Regions from separate parts of the Homo sapiens genome. Here regions 1, 2 and 4 are each reported to be linked to region 3. The links are microRNA targets in miRTarBase. Many come from high-throughput screens and were not tested one by one. Region 3 holds a microRNA gene; each other region holds the end of a gene's coding sequence.

The links. Region 3 holds the annotated microRNA hsa-miR-302e (UAAGUGCUUCCAUGCUU, at 2,004-2,020, opposite strand). A microRNA usually pairs through its seed, bases 2 to 8, with sites in the 3' UTR of a target mRNA and lowers its output. Matches are read on the target gene's strand: a 7mer-m8 pairs with bases 2 to 8, a 7mer-A1 pairs with bases 2 to 7 and ends in A, and an 8mer does both.
Region 1: miRTarBase lists GINS4 as a target of hsa-miR-302e. Seed matches in the 3' UTR shown: 7mer-m8 at 346-352 and 7mer-m8 at 3,129-3,135.
Region 2: the mRNA of KLF3 is a reported target of hsa-miR-302e. Seed matches in the 3' UTR shown: 7mer-m8 at 3,623-3,629.
Region 4: the mRNA of MTMR9 is a reported target of hsa-miR-302e. The part of its 3' UTR that is shown has no 7-base or 8-base seed match.

Annotation. Positions count from the first base shown.
Region 1 is chr8:41,541,789-41,545,788 of GRCh38, forward strand. GINS4 (GINS complex subunit 4) reads left to right here. Exons shown (of 8, transcript NM_032336.3): 7 at 21-111; 8 at 203-3,242. The coding sequence ends at 299. The region is part of intron 1 of GPAT4-AS1 (GPAT4 and GINS4 antisense RNA 1); the gene reads right to left. Among named protein-coding and RNA genes, the nearest start is that of GINS4, 15 kb to the left of the region's middle. RefSeq lists enhancers at 1,159-1,388, 3,353-3,502, 3,563-3,652.
Region 2 is chr4:38,696,988-38,700,987 of GRCh38, forward strand. KLF3 (KLF transcription factor 3) reads left to right here. Exons shown (of 6, transcript NM_016531.6): 6 at 95-4,000. The coding sequence ends at 276. Among named protein-coding and RNA genes, the nearest start is that of KLF3-AS1, 34 kb to the left of the region's middle.
Region 3 is chr11:7,232,638-7,236,790 of GRCh38, reverse strand. It overlaps MIR302E (microRNA 302e), which reads right to left and starts at 2,025; the gene lies at 1,954-2,025.
Region 4 is chr8:11,322,026-11,326,025 of GRCh38, reverse strand. MTMR9 (myotubularin related protein 9) reads right to left here. Exons shown (of 10, transcript NM_015458.4): 10 at 1-3,401. The coding sequence ends at 3,238. MTMR9-AS1 (MTMR9 antisense RNA 1) reads left to right here and starts at 598. Exons shown (of 2, transcript NR_189628.1): 1 at 598-710.

The DNA.
Region 1 (4,000 bases), not on the chromosome of region 3:
CATTGTTGTTTTCCTGGCAGTTCCCAAACCAGATCTAGATTCTTACGTGTTTCTGAGAGTGAGAGAACGACAAGAAAACATACTGGTAGAACCAGACACAGATGAGCAGAGGTGAGTGGCGTGCATCTTTCACAGTGGGCACATTCCTCCCGATGGAGGGCCAGCCGAGCTCTGCAGGCAAATGTGTTTCCCTCTTTTTCAGGGACTACGTGATTGACCTGGAGAAGGGCTCACAGCACTTGATCCGATACAAAACCATTGCACCTCTGGTTGCATCTGGAGCTGTCCAGCTAATTTAAAACTAGGCATAAACAGCCAGGCATGGTGACTCAAGCCTGTAATCCCAGCACTTTGGGAGGCCGAGGCGGGCGGATCATGAGGTCAGGAGTTCGAGACCAACCGACCAACATGGTGAAACCCCATCTTTACTAAAAATACAAAATAATTAGCCGGGTGTTGGTGGTGTGCACCTGTAATCCCAGCTACTCAGGAGGCCGGGGCAGGAGAATCGCTTGAACCTGGGAGCAGGAGGTTGCAGTGAGCCGAGGTCGTGCCATTGCACTCCAGCCTGGGTGACAGTGAGACTTTGTCTCAAAAAAAAAAACAAAAAACAAAAAAAAAACAAACTAGGCATAAACTCATGAGGTCAGGAGATCAAGACCATCCTGGCTACTAAACCCCATCTCTACTAAACCCATCTCTACTAAAAATACAAAAAATTAGCCAGGCATGGTGGCGGGCCCATCTACTCAGGAGGCTGAGGCAGGAGAATGGTGTGAACCCGGGAGGTGGAGCTTGCAGTGAGCCAAGATCGTGCCATTGCACTCTAGCCTGGGCGACAGAGCGAGACTCCATTTCCAAAAAAAACACACTAGGCGTAAACAAGAATGAAGACCTGGAACCGTAGAGAAAATACTAGAAACCCCTCGTATCACGTTGTGCCTGAGGACAATAATAAAGTAGTTTACTAGGCATCAGACATTCCTCAGCAGTGCTGTGGGTCACGGGCGTGAAGCGGAGCTCGAGGCAGGATTGCTTGTGTTGCTGCATGTCCTGTCTGCTGTTTTAGCCCGTGTCAGTAGATGGGGCCATTGTACTGTTTGTTCTGCACACTTGGCGGAGCAGCAGAGGCTCTCAGCACGCCTTTTCCCTTTGTAGTATTTTCTGAGCTAAGGAAAGTCAGGCAGAAGTAGTTCATAAGAAGGCATCACTGCCTGTGATCGGGGCTGCATTTAGCCCTGACCTGATAATGGTAGGAGAGTTCATTTAGCCTTTCTGCTGCGAAGATTGTAAATAGATTAAAGAAAACAGCTGTGGCCTTCTCCCGTCATACATCATTAGACTGTGTAAACTAACATTTTAGAACCTCTAATATTGGACTTAAAACCAATTTCTGTCGTGCTTAATTGAAAATCACAACTAAACCAATAAACCATTATTAAATTTCCATTCTGCAGCAGAAGGCACCTCTGGACGGCTCCCGGCTTGTAGTTTAATGAAGTATGTGCTCCCTGCTGTTAACCCGCAGCCCTCCCCAACTCTCCAGCAGCTTTGCCAAGTCAGCCTCCGGGCCATCTGGCTGTCCTTGGCCAAGGCACTGTTAACGGAGTGACGTTAACCATCTTGTATTGTGACCTGTGGCCGCTTTTCTGGTTTAAGTCCTTCACTTTTTCAAGAGGAATGGATGAAATTAATGTGCATGCAGAGTCTCACAGTGATGCCGGAAGGAAGGATGTATAGGCAGTGAATGAATGATCTTTCCTTGAAATGCTATAAAAAGCAACCTGCATTCCAGTCTTTTCTTCCTGGTTGAAGTTGGCAGATTTCCATTTGCAGGGTATGGGCTGCGAGAGTAATCAGGGTAACATTGCTGTCATTTCCAAGAGAAATCAGTAGGGGAAAGCAAGGGAGGTCTTTTTTTTTTTTCTTTTTTGAGACGGAGTTTCCCTCTTGTTACCCAGGCTGGAGTGGCAGTGGTGTGAACACGGCTCACTGCAGCCTCCACCTCCTGGGTTCAAGAGATTCTCCTGCCCCAGCCTCCCGAGTAGCTGGTATTATAGGTGCACACCACCACACCCAACTAATTTTTTGTATTTTTAGTAGAGATGGGGTTTCATGATGTTGGCCAAGCTGGTCTCGAGCTCCTGACCCCAGGTGATCCACCCACCTCGGCCTCCCAAAGTGCTGGAATTATAGGCGTGAGCCACTGCGCACGGCCTGGGGAGGTTTTATTTCTTGACAAAGGTATTTGATACTCGTGCAGTCCCTGGAGGGTCTCACTGGAGAGACAACATTTAGGCTGAGATCTGATTAACAGGAGGCAGCTGCAGTGCAGAGGTCAAAAGGGAGGGTGTTCCAGGCAGAGAAAACAGCCTGTGCAAAGGCCCTGAGGCAGAAACAAACTCTACTTGAGGTCAGCCTGGTTAGAAAGCCCAACTCAAAATAGAAAGTATTACATGATAAGGTCTGAGGCAGGCTGGACCCAGATCTTACAGGACCTTGTTAATAAGGATCCCATTTGGTCCCCCACAGTCCTGAGAAGCGGGCAGGGCTGTGGGAAACAGCAGATATTTAGTGGTAAGCCTGAGATCAGAACCCAAGTCTGCACTTCCTAGTCACGTTCTCCCTGTAGTGCTAAGCCCAGAGACCTGAGCTGTTAACCTAGAACAGTGTGCTTCCTAAGCCTTAATGTGCATACCCATCGCCTGGAGCTCGCCTTAAGATGTAGGTTCTGCCTGAAGCCCAAGTTCATTTAGTATGTCATGGTTAATTCAGAGTAAAATCAAGAGTTAGTACTTGATTTATGCTTGTTATATAAAGAAAGAGACAACTTCACTGTATGATCATTTTGTCACTTTTCAAAAGCATTTAATTCCCATTCAATTGAAAATGTTTCAAGAACAAACCTGTTTGGTCATTTTATTGATATTGCACATTTGTATATGAATAAATTTTTGCAAATTAAAAAAAAAAAAGATGTAGGTTCTGAAACAGGGTGAGGTCCAGGATCCTGCCTTTCTAAGGAGCTCCCATGTTGTGCAGTTGCTGCTGGCCCGGGGACCACATTGAATGACGGCTCTACGTCCTCATGCCTCCAGCTGCTGCCCTGTACATGTCCAACTGCACGGAGCACTTTACATCCTCTAAAACCACAGTAAATTGCTCCATTTCCTAAATTACCTCTTCAAGAGAAGACTGGTTTTGATGTCATTTTTAAATAAAGGAGAAGTTGAATTTCAAAACCAAGTGGAACAGGAAATGATGTGACTTGGTTGACATTGATTTTAACATTTGGTTCATGGTGAGTGTTTTGCTTTATTGTTAAAAACTCGCCACTAAAAGCATGACAGAACATTTTATCAAATGATGGCGTCATCCTTTACCGTAAGTTTGCCCCTAGCAAGACAGCTCTTCCTGAGACGTGCTTGCAGGCCGCTATGTGGGTTTTCCCACCGCAGTCATCATCCGTCATCTGTGACCTTGCTGCATTTACTCCATGCTCACACCCCAGCAGCCCGCCTGGCTTTGGCATCGCCCTCAGAGGCATCAAACTTCCCCTGCTGCAATGTACAAGAGTTAGCCAGGAAGCTTGCAGAGTGCTTTGGTTTTGTTTTGTTTTTTTGACATGTCGCCCTGGCTGGAGTACAGTGGTACAATCTCAGCTCACTGCAACCTCCGCCTCCTGGGTTCAAGCGATTCTCCTGCCTCAGCCTCCCAAGTAGCTGGGATTACAGGTGCACACCATGACACCCAGCTAATTTTTGTATTTTTAGTAGAGATAGGGTTTCACCATGTTGGCCAGCCTGGTTTTGAACTCCTGACCTCAAATGATCTGCCTGCCTCGGCCTCCCAAAGTGCTGGGATTACAGGTGTGAGCCACCATGCCCAGCTGCAGAGTGCATTTTTAAGCAAACACATCATATGTCAATTCTTCATATAGTGTTCTTTAATTTATCTTGGGAAGCCAAATATCCCATTTAGAATTCTGTAAGAACTGATT
Region 2 (4,000 bases), not on the chromosome of region 3:
ATATCTTGGAAATAATATTTGTCAAGCATTAACTCAAAGATCTTTACTACCTTTACAGAAAAAAAAAATAGCTCTTTTCTTTTTCCTTTTGCAGGAGAAAAACCCTACAAATGTACATGGGAAGGGTGCACATGGAAGTTTGCTCGGTCTGATGAACTAACAAGACATTTCCGAAAACATACTGGAATCAAACCTTTCCAGTGCCCGGACTGTGACCGCAGCTTCTCCCGTTCTGACCATCTTGCCCTCCATAGGAAACGCCACATGCTAGTCTGATTGCCTCTGTGTCCTGCCTCAGCGTGACTCCCCACTCACCTGGCTCTCTCTCTGTCCTGCCTCCCATTATCTAACACATTTTTTACATGTACATTTTAATTTGATTCAGCTGGTCTGAATCTCTGAATTTATATCATCCAAAACTTCCATATGGTCAGTAGTAGATGTTCTCTAATCCTCCCTCTCCTTACCACGGGTCAGACCTAAAGAATGTGAACACTTTTTTTTTTTTTTCTGGGGATGCTAAGCAAACCCTTCTTACAGATACGTTTAATGTAATAAGAACAAGGGAACATGTAAACTAACATAACCAATTGTCAGTTCTCCATGTATTCCTCAAAAGAATGTCAGAGTAAATGTATTAGAAATACAGTATCCAGACTGCTAGTCCTTGCCAGAGACATTCTTACCTCTGCCCTGTGATAATATTTTATGCTTGACAGTGAAAACAAGTGTGGCCCCTTGCACCGGTTAGCTAGAAGTACAGCCAGATTTCAAGCTAGTGCAGTCACCTCTTCCGTCATTCTTCACAAATCTTGTCAACCTGGATCTTAGACTTCATCTGAATCGAGTTCTTTGCCCTCCTTTGTGCCTGCAGCTCATATGGAGGTCTTTGCCACCAATGGGAGATGAGCCCAAACTTTCGATCTAGGTGGGTGATGTGTAGCAGTTCAAGGGAAGGGTGCTGTGTTTTCATAGCATGGAGTCGGAGGAGAGGGCCATTTAGCAGGGGGAGCAGAAGAGGCAATTCCTCCTGGGCTAGGGGTTGTCAGTGAGGTTTCAACATTTTGTTAGCTGTGTGCAGCATTCCCAGAGCTTCAGTCTCTGTGCATACTCAGCTTTGTAGAACCATGCTGCAAAGCCATATACCGATGGGGTTATCCATGCAACTATCTCCATTCCTACAATGTCCTTAATATGAGATCATCAAACATTGATAGTAGGGACTCCATGGAATATTTGCCCAGTAATGGTAAGAAATCTTTCGGGTAAGAGTATGGATGGTTCTTCTTTTACCCAATCTGCTTATAGCTTTTTTTGTAAACAGGGAAATGTTGAGTGGTACTTGTATTCCCTTATCAAATTAATCACATAGCTTTTATACAGAAACTCTTCCTGTGTGAGCTGTTAAGGTGCCAAATTGGCTGTCATTTGTATTCATGACACATACCATAAAGCATCTGCTAATGCTTTAATGGATTGATTCAATTAAGACCTGAGTGACACTATTTGTAAATATAACTAGTTGTGAAGCACACATACCTTTATTTTGGGAATTTATGAGAAAATATAGAAAACCACAGATCAGGGATTCATATATGTAGCTCAAAAATTCCCAAAAGTTTACTGTTAGAGTTGGCAATTTCCTATCACTATTTCAGTGTCAGAACAAACTGAAAATAATGGCTCGTGTTTATGTTGAAGATAAATAGCACCATTATTGGGGGAAGTTATTCAAAAGCAGGCTTTTGAGCACCATAGTCTAAATGCCAATAAAAATAATTCATACATAGAAATGTCATTGGTCCTGAATTTGAAGAAAGTGAGCAACAGTAGTTAAATGTGGGTGCATATAACCAAATTCCCCTTCATCAAGAATGGAGGAGAAGAGAGAAGAATGAAATCCTGAAGATTCATCCCAGCCGCAACTCAGGATCCAACACAACTTTAACTGGGAGGAATACATTGTTTGATCATTTTTAAAACATCTGTGAATGAGTGATTCCGGAGGCCTGTGAATTGTGTGGGGAGCTTGCTTTGATGGCACTGTGTTAATAAAAGTTGTAGGGACTGTGCACCTAAGAGGCTAAGAGGTCCCACTCATCCGCCCTGTGAACCAGCTGTAAAGAAATGTAGTTAAGAAATGCAAAGAAATGTGTTATCTTGGCACTTGGGTTTGATTTTCCTTTTTTTAAAGCACTGCAAAACTTCTTTAGGATACTAAAACATCCTAATTGGGCTGTTTTTTTGTTTTGTTTTGTTTTTCAGCTAAAGGCAAAGATAATTTTTTTTTCAGCTGAAGTTTTTCTTTTTTGCAACTATGACATGAATTGAGTGATAAAATGGCTCTTTGAAAAGTAGATATTGTCTGTATTGTAAATGCTTAGTCATATTCATGGCAAAGTGTTCATTTCTTGAGATGGTTCTTTCACAACACACAAGAATCAAGATGGAACGCAAGGAAAATCTTTTTGTTTTGACCGAGGTAACCAGTTTATGTGTGTTCCAATCCATAGAGAAGTGGGGGAAAGGGCGAGAAAGGATCAGATTGATCTGGGATCAGCTTTGAGCCTGAGTTCAGTGAATAGCCTCATGGGCATCTCATGGAATTGATGCATTTGCTGTGGCATATTTAAATTTTGTTCAAAAGATTTGAAGCAAGACCTTGCAAAGACTCTTAACATTACTGTTCAGCTTGCTTAGATTGTGTTAACAGTTCATTTAACAAAGATCCGTTTTAACTCTGAACAAAAGCAACCCAGAGCGGCCATTCTCTATTCCCATGCTGGTCAATACGCTTTCATTACCAATTGGCCCTTACCAAACTTTTCTTATATATATATTTGTATTTTACTATGATAGTTGAGAAATTTAGCCTCTTAGTCATTTTTAGCTGTTATTGTGGAAGACCTCAAATACAAGATTAGATGCCCTTGAACATGTTTTAATGATGTGTGTCATGTTACTATCAATGGTGATTTCAATCGCAATATTTTAAATTGATGAGAATGATTTGTAAACATGAAGTTACTATTACGTAAATTCTGTTTGTTATAGAGTTTCTTCAGTTGTTACCCAAGTGTCATCCTAGAGAAGTCAGAAGAATCAGAATCCATCGTATTTTAGAGTTATGTGAATCTACATCATAAATGGGCATTAACATTCTAAATTGCTTGGTTTGGAGAATGTGTTAGCAGCATAGCTATATTCAACTAGGGAGATGCTAAATACACAGAAGTTTCAAGAGCCTTGGAACAGAATTACAGGGGAACTATATATGTATATGTATATTTTATTAAACACCCATCTGCACTATCAGTATTGCACTAATGTGGAATTTGAAAGACTATTTTGCTGATACTGTATATATGCGCATCATTCCTGATTAGATTGTTGTAAAGACAATCTGAAAGATCTAAGGTTTTAAAATAATTTGGTTTGAAAATATACAGTTGTCTTGAAGGAATTGCTGTCATACATGAAGTTGCTCCGAGCTGTCTTTATTCTCTTCTTGGTCAAGGTTAACAATTGCTAAATGATCGCAAATTCACCTAAACAATACATTTACAAAGCCATCTTTACATGCATTAAACGAGGGCTACAACAATATTGTTTTACAAATACTAGCACTTTTTTTTCTGTTATGTACTTAGTGTTAGAGGGTCAAAATAATCTTTCTGCTTAGCATCTCTTAAACCATACCTGCAAATATAGCAGGATTATTACATTTACAGTACTTTAATACTTGTATAAACTATGCAGAAATTTTTAATAAAGTGTAATATATTTTATAAGCTAATAAGACTGAATGGGTAAAGGTTTTTAGCATGCATTAGTATACTTGCAGATACTGAAACATTTTGGTAATCTTTCTTACTAAAGATGTGAATGTTTAATGTACCTTCTCTGTTTCTACTCTGTAGTCCAATGGGAATTCAGTAATGACATTTTGTCATGTCAAACTGTGAACATAAATTTGTACTGTACAGTCCTCATATACTAT
Region 3 (4,153 bases):
GTAAAATTATAAAGCAACTGAGTTTAAAATGGAGAAGAAGACAGAAGGGCTTAGAAACAGGTCTATAATTTTACGCCAAGTTTAAAATATCTTACCTCGAATTTGTATCCAAGATTTAGGTCTTTACTACCTGTGCTATCTGGTGTAATGAATGGCGACCTTGGCCAAGAGGAATTCCCTGGACTGTTGTCTTTGATCCTTTCCGATCACTTAAGGCTGATGAGTTGAGCACCTCCTGGCTAAATATGGCCTTATCAGTCACTGTGCGCTCCTTAAATGTATAAGGTCAGGTTCTTACCTGTGGGGCATCACATCCCTGAAGGAAGGACAGACAGGCAGATGCCTAGTTAAAGCACAGAGCCATGTAAAAGTTTTTTATAAAATTATAAAACAATGCAAAGGGATGGAGAGAGTAATTCTCTCTAGAAGAACTGGTCTATTATTTGATCATGTGGCCATAAGAAATTTACTTACTATGTCTGGATAGCAGTATTTCAATGGCAAAATAGCATGTTTGACAAGGCAGGACACTTTTTGGGCTCTAATAGTCTAACGTTGAAGTTAGATTAGCTGGTTTCATATGTATTAGTCTCATCTTCCCTACTAGACTATCATCGGGTAGGGATAATATCTCAATCATCTCTCTATCCCAGGGCCCAGAGGGCACTGCCTGTGACTGTAGTAGGCATCCATTGAGTGCACATTGATTGGTTGACTAAAATTCATCTTTCTATCTTACTCTAATATCTTAGAATCTAGTAGAATTCAGCACTCCAAATTGATAGGCTTCAAACAATGGAGTTTAAAGGTATATATAAATGCCTGCAGAGAGCTATTTCTAGCCTAATGCCTTATTTTTGTGAATCTTGATGAAGGGCTCGAAGAGGGCTCTGCACCTCAATTTTACTTTGACAGAAATCTATCTGAAAAGTTTCCTCTTCTGAACTGATCTAAGCCCCTCACCCCTCCATGATCCTCCCTGAGTCTTAACACCTTAGACCTGTGAACATTAATGTAAATGTGTATCTTGAAGGTGTGTCTACATGTGAGAATTTTGTGTGTGTATGCATGCAAGTTGTCTGAGTCTCTCTGAGTGTGTGCTTGTGTGTTTTCTCCATTGAGAGCAAGTTGTCTATGCCCTGCAGAATTCCCAGCCCAACCTCAGAAACCAAAAGCCTTCCTCCAAGTTACAGAGTTTACGCCAGAGAACAAACATGGATGGAGCTCATGTTTCTTGCTTGTCAGTCCTAGGTCTTCATTCCTTATTCCTGGAGGAAGGAATCTATTCATGAAGGTTTAGATGGAGATAACCATGGAAAAGCTACCAGTCTCAGTGTTGTTGGGTTTTGTTTTTGTTTTTGTTTTTGAGTATTAAAAGATAGCAAGCAAGTTTGACTTTTTCTACTGAATAGATGATGTTCTGTCTGTCAGAAAGACTGGTGCCTGGAAAGTTTTTTGCAGACACTTGCTTTAAGTTTATGACTTGCTTTGCTCCCACAGGAGCAAGAAAATGAACCATTTGTTTTTCAAAACACACACACACATAGAACTATAAAATAAAAATTGATGGCCGAATAAGCTGCCCCCCACCCAAGTTTAATTCATACCTGTCTGAGTGTCTGTACAATTTAAGCACTAAGGTATAAGTGGGTCCAAGTCTAGGCTTCCAGAGACTATCCCATGAATATTAATATTAGTCTGGGATTTCCAGCGAACACAAAGTAGCCCAATGTTACACCACTAACACCGTTTCTGGGTCAGGATGACTCCTGAGGCAAAAGAAACTTCTATGCACTGGAGAAGCTTCAGGTTCCTTTTCTTGCCCCCCATCACCCCCACCTTCCCCCAGCACTTGCTGTTTTATTACAGAATTAGTGGGAAGGAGACCATTTGTGGAGCTGTTGCTGTTCTAAGCACTTTACAAATAATAACTCATTGATTCCTCAAAATAATTCTATAAGGTAGGTGCTATTACTACATCCATCTTACCAGTAAGGAAACTGAAGCATGGAAGCACTTACCCAAGGTGAAACAGCCAATAATTAGGAGAGCCAGGTTTCAAACCCAGGCAGTCTGCCTAGAGACTCTATTAACTGTGAAACCACACTATCTGATGGACCAAACCTCTGTGGCAGGCAGATTCCAGAAATGGACTTGTAATGTCAATATTAAATAAAATCACAGTTTTAAATAGAACAAAACTTTGGCAATTATGTATTTTAAGATTAATTAATTTTAAGGATTATAACAAGGCAAATATAAAAATGGAAAACATTGAGAACTTGTTGTAACAGCCCATGGACTATGATTTTTTTAAATGTACTAATAAGAGCAAGGAAACTTCAACGATTTCTCTTCTTTTATCCTCTCATCTTGATATCTCTGGATACAATGCTCCACCATCTGTCCATATATGCCTCAGCTATGTTGAATCCCAGGAATGGAATTCCTTAAAAGCATACATAAAAAGACCTCTGTAGTCTGTTTTGTGTGGTTGGAGGGGAGAGTGACTCCTCTGTATCCTCTGGTAGGTGAAAGCCCTGGACCGCGTAGCATCCTTTGTTAGTGATTTTACTTGAAATCTACCTTCAGGAGCTCTTTTAGGGCAGGCCTGGTGGTGACAAAGAAGACATTTATGCAGCCAAAAAACACATGAAGAAATGCTCATCATCACTGGCCATCAGAGAAATGCAAATCAAAACCACTATGAGATATCATCTCACACCAGTTAGAATGGCAATCATTAAAAAGTCAGGAAACAACAGGTGCTGGAGAGGATGTGGAGAAATAGGAACACTTTTACACTGTTGGTGGGACTGTAAACTAGTTCAACCATTGTGGAAGTCAGTGTGGCGATTCCTCAGGGATCTAGAACTAGAAATACCATTTGACCCAGCCATCCCATTACTGGGTATATACCCAAAGGACTATAAATCATGCTGCTATAAAGACACATGCACACGTATGTTTATTGCGGCACTATTCACAATAGCAAAGACTTGGAACCAACCCAAATGTCCAACAATGATAGACTGGATTAAGAAAATGTGGCACATATACACCATGGAATACTATGCAGCCATAAAAAATGATGAGTTCATGTCCTTTGTAGGGACATGGATGAAATTGGAAACCATCACTCTCAGTAAACTATCGCAAGAACAAAAAACCAAACACCGCATATTCTCACGCATAGGTGGGAATTGAACAATGAGATCACATGGACACAGGAAGGGGAATATCACACTCTGGGGACTGTGGTGGGGTCGGGGGAGGGATAGCATTGGGAGATATACCTAATGTTAGATGACACGTTAGTGGGTGCAGCGCACCAGCATGGCACATGTATACATATGTAACTAACCTGCACAATGTGCACATGTACCCTAAAACTTAGAGTATAATAAAAAAAAAAAAATTTTTACAACTGCACAAATTTTGATAAAAATGAGTTAAAAAAAAAAAAAAAAAAAAAAGAAATCTACCAGACTTTTTAACCAATATTCCTATGTAACTTTTTGCGTTTTCATGTTAGGTCATTGGGAAGTGAGGGAAGGCAAGTCAGAGTTTTCTAGTGAGGCTCTGCTGAGCTTCTGTGTTGTCTCTTCTAAGACATATTGCATATGTACCTTAAGAAATAAGTGAAATCATGAAAATGAATGTTTTGCTATAGTATCCTGTGGCATGTTGCTTTATACTGTGATGCATCCTTGAACATATATCATTGTATTTCTTACACTCTGACTCTATTAAATGTTTTATTCCATTTAGAATCCCAAACATAGTCTTTGCCCAAAGTTGTCAATTATCTGCAACATATACTTGATTATTTTTCCCATTGAATCAATTATCTACTGTTGCATAAGAAATTATCCCAAAACTTATCAACTTAAAATAACAAATATTTATTTTCTCACAGTGTCTGTAGATCAGGAATCCAAGTGTGGCTTAGCTGGGTACTTTTGGTTCAAAGTTTCTTAGGAAGTTGTAGATGAGCTATAAGCCAGGGCTGTGGTCTCATCTGAAGGCTTGTCTAGGGGAGAATTTCCCTTCCAAGCTCATTTATGTGATTGCTTGGATGTTTCCATTCCTCACAGGCTGTTGAATTGGGCCATTGGCTGGAGAGCTTCTCTAGCAGGCTATTGGATGGAGA
Region 4 (4,000 bases), not on the chromosome of region 3:
CCTTTAAAACAAAAAGCAATAAAATCCCACCCCTAAATCAGGCCTCAAAGTTCAAAGAAATGTTTAAAAATCCCCCATATGGGATCTGACATGAATGTCTATTATTGTCCCCCCCAAGTCTTCTCAAAAATCACTTTAAAATCTTGCTTTGAGACCCTAAGTTTTCTTGGAAATAAAATACATTTATAGATTGTTTTAAACCTACTGAATTTTACTATTTCTGCTTGCTTTCTTCCCATTTAATAAAATCAAAATAAAAAATTTTGACCAAATAAATATTTATTGAAAGGTCCTGCCACCAAAAAAGCTTCAGGTTTTTAAAAACATATAATCAAACAACAATGTTCTTCTGATTAAAAAAAAAAAAAGTACTTATTTAAATCTGAGGATCCTTATATGTTCAATAGAGGATTGTGGTGATCCTTTGTATTTTAAAAATATTATTTGTGGGGCCTACTTTACGTATCTCCTGTATAAAAACCAGCTTTCACTCCACATGAATAGAGAAGATGCTGAATACGCAGGAATCTGATTATCCCTCACGTGATTATTACCGGCCCCTCTGGGGCAATCTGCTTGCTCACTCATTCTGCCACCATTCTCTTCATTCAAGTGTTTAACAGCACATTTATCAAAGGCAGCTCTCCGATGCAATGTTTAACGAGTGTCTTCTCAGGAGTGTATCCGTGTCATTTATTCTTCTCATCCAGGTAAGCACGAACTTCACAGTACTACTAAAAATCTTCTTCAAATTATATTGATAATGGACTTATTTCTGACCGTTTTTGGATTTGGGAAAACTCTAATATTTGGATTACCAAATAACACTTCTGTAGATGCACTGATACCGAAGTTTATTTTTACAACCTGTAAACAGATCTGAAGTTTGAACAATCCCTAATTATAAATTAATACTAAAATGCAAACTTGCCAAAACAGTATAGATTGTTGTCTCAGTGAGACAGAGAAAACGAAATGCGAATACCGTGTTATGACTGTACTCTGGCTCGCACAGCAAATGTGCATCAGGAAGATGGGTCTACCTTGATGGTACATCATCCCTCCATGACCAGACCTAATACAAACTCCCTCACAAGTTTCCACCCATGGAAGCCCTATGGCCGATCAACAGAAGCAGTGGGAGTCACTTCTGGCTTTTTCTTTACTTAGACACAGGGTCTCGCTCTGTTGCTCAGGCTGGAGTGGACTGATGCGATCATAGCTCACTGCAGCCTCAACCTCCTAGGCTCAAGGGATCCTTCTGCCTCAGCTTTCCTAGTGGCTGGGACTATAGGCACACACCACCACACCAGGCTAATGGGAGTCACTTCTAAAGAAAACTCTCTAGATGGTTTTCCTTATATGCCTGTTAGCTGAGAAGAAAAGCCTCCTTCATATACAATCTTGAGACAAAAAGAGAAGAAAACAAAAAGCTCAGCTGTATTAACAGACATAGCAAGCAATTCTGAGGGAGCACAAAAAAGTGAGGCTGTTTCCTTTTTTTTTTTTTTTTTTTAACAAAACTAAGATGGACATTTCACACAACGCAGAGCTACGAGAACATCTCTTATGCTCCTTGCCATGGGATTTTAATGCCCCAAGGTTCATAACTACAGCAAAGAAAGTAAGTCAAAAATAAACTGAGCTTAAAGAAGGTGGCAGGCCAATTTTCCCAAAAAGACTGTGGACTGTGGGCTGCTGTGTAGCCTTTGCTACAAGGCTGAGGAAGCAGAAGAAAGATGAATTGGGCAATTGGTGATGAAAAGTATTTGCCATTTTCAAAGGCTTCTCAGTGTGGCCATAGATTTTGCTAGTCAATTTTTAAAAAATTATATTTTTAGCTCAACACACAGCTCTAAAGCAGGGTTCAGTGTAGTGTGTTCTCTACCGAAATGGTTATATACAGATGGTATGGAAATGGTTTTAAAGATTACTCATAAACTATCCTTTTAAAGAAAAACTAGACTCGGTCATATTTGTTAAAATGAGCAATGTCACCAAACAGAAATGTAGGTGGGAAATACTGAACCACAAACATTTGGAGTTGCAGGCATAGACTAGCAGAGCATGAATAGTCATCACTGTTTCTATAATACTGAAACACTCAAATCTGTTTCTGAGGTTTAAAACACAGAGCTATATTATATTCATAAACTTCCCCCTCCACTTAAGTTATATTTGCCTAACACATAATGGACAAATCAATAGAGCCAAAGCAAATTTGCAAAAGGCTCAGGTCAACATGAAAATTTTAACCTTAGTATTAGGAAACTCTTAGAATACTTACAAATTAAAAAAACACACAATAAAACACACATACACATATAAACCAGTGCAATAAGAACTTTAGACAAGGGCAGTGCATCTCTGGTTTAAGAAAACCTATTTGTAGCTTGATTATAATAAATTAACTCTATTCTAGATGATGGTTTAATTTTACAAGCAGCATTTGAAACACATTGTATATGTATGCTCAAAACCTGAAAACCAATTCACCAGTAACAATTCTCAATCAGTAACAAATTCCTACTTTAATTGTATATTGCACATACTTTTAGTGTCTACGTTAAAATAAATTTAACTCTTCTTAATGTAAATATCGGAGGACCATACCTGTTGCCCTTGTAGAAATAATTTACCTTGAATAACAGATTTTCCTTTCTTGACAAACAAGAATGAGAATAGATTTCAGCTTCGTTAGTCCAAAACTATTTTAAAGAAAATGGCTATTTTATGTGGCGAAGACACTGGAAATGGATTGTTAAACACAAAATCCTTGGTTTATCCATTGTTGCCATTTTGAAAAACATTTCTATGGTCAGAGTGTTTAAAAGTCTGACCCTTTTTTTAAACCACCAAATAGTCCCTAGAGAGATTAGCTGTCTCCTTGACTGCTCTAGAATGCTGTTTGGAGAGTGGACACAGAGAAAAAGCTTTGGATAAAATGGCATGAAACACAAATGGCATTAAATAGGTCATCTATTTCACGTAAAAATAAAATGACTAGCACCTCCTTCCGGCTCCCAAAGTGACAGGCCCTAACAGGCCACATGAAACATGGTTTATGATAGTAAGTTTCATTATTCATACAGTATTGAGAAATCCATTACATTAGGGGGGTCCCACATCTAAAGCCTTCACTTCAAGGCTACCGTGTAAAAGTGAACTGAAGGGCACAAGGAGAGAACGGCGGACACAGGCCCAAGAAGGTCCTTGCGAAGGGTGCGAGGAGACCTTTCAGGGACTCTCCTGCATCCCGTCCTCTGTTTCCAGTTCTGCCAACTGCCTTCGAAGGATATTGACTTTTGCTTGTAATTCTTTATTATATTCAATGATGTTAACCATTTCTTCATATGCTTCATCCAAATACTTAGAGGATCTATTCCAACGTAGGAAAATACCTATTGAATCCAGGAATGGAAAACAGAAGCAAGAAAGGTATATACAATGGATTAAAATTACATTTGTGGATAAGATGTAATTTATGTATTATACATTCTTTTTTCTTTTGTTGCCACAACTCACATCTGTATTTTATTATACTCTAAAATATACAGGAATCTTGAGGTACTGAAAAGGATGCAATTGAATACAATATTTGAGAAGTCACTACTTGTATGTACATGCTCATTGATTCTTCAGAAATATCCCACAAAATTATCAAATAGATCCAAATACCATTTTATGATATATTCAGGAAAACAAGATGATAATTTGCAATGTCATAAACTTTCCAATTTCACAATATAAATCACTTATTTTTATAATTATAGAATATTGCTCAGACATGTAAGATCCCTTAAATGTGTGAAGCCATTTTCACCTGAAAAGTGACAACTACAGTAAAAGCAGAACCACATATGTTGTTATTTGAAAGCCTGAACTGTAGCCCACGTGCTTACATGCCTCTCTCCCTGTTACTTGAGAGGCAATCTTTCAATTCTGCAGGCAATTTCTTCTTTCCCCAAATAATAATAATTATCCTTTTATTATGAACCAA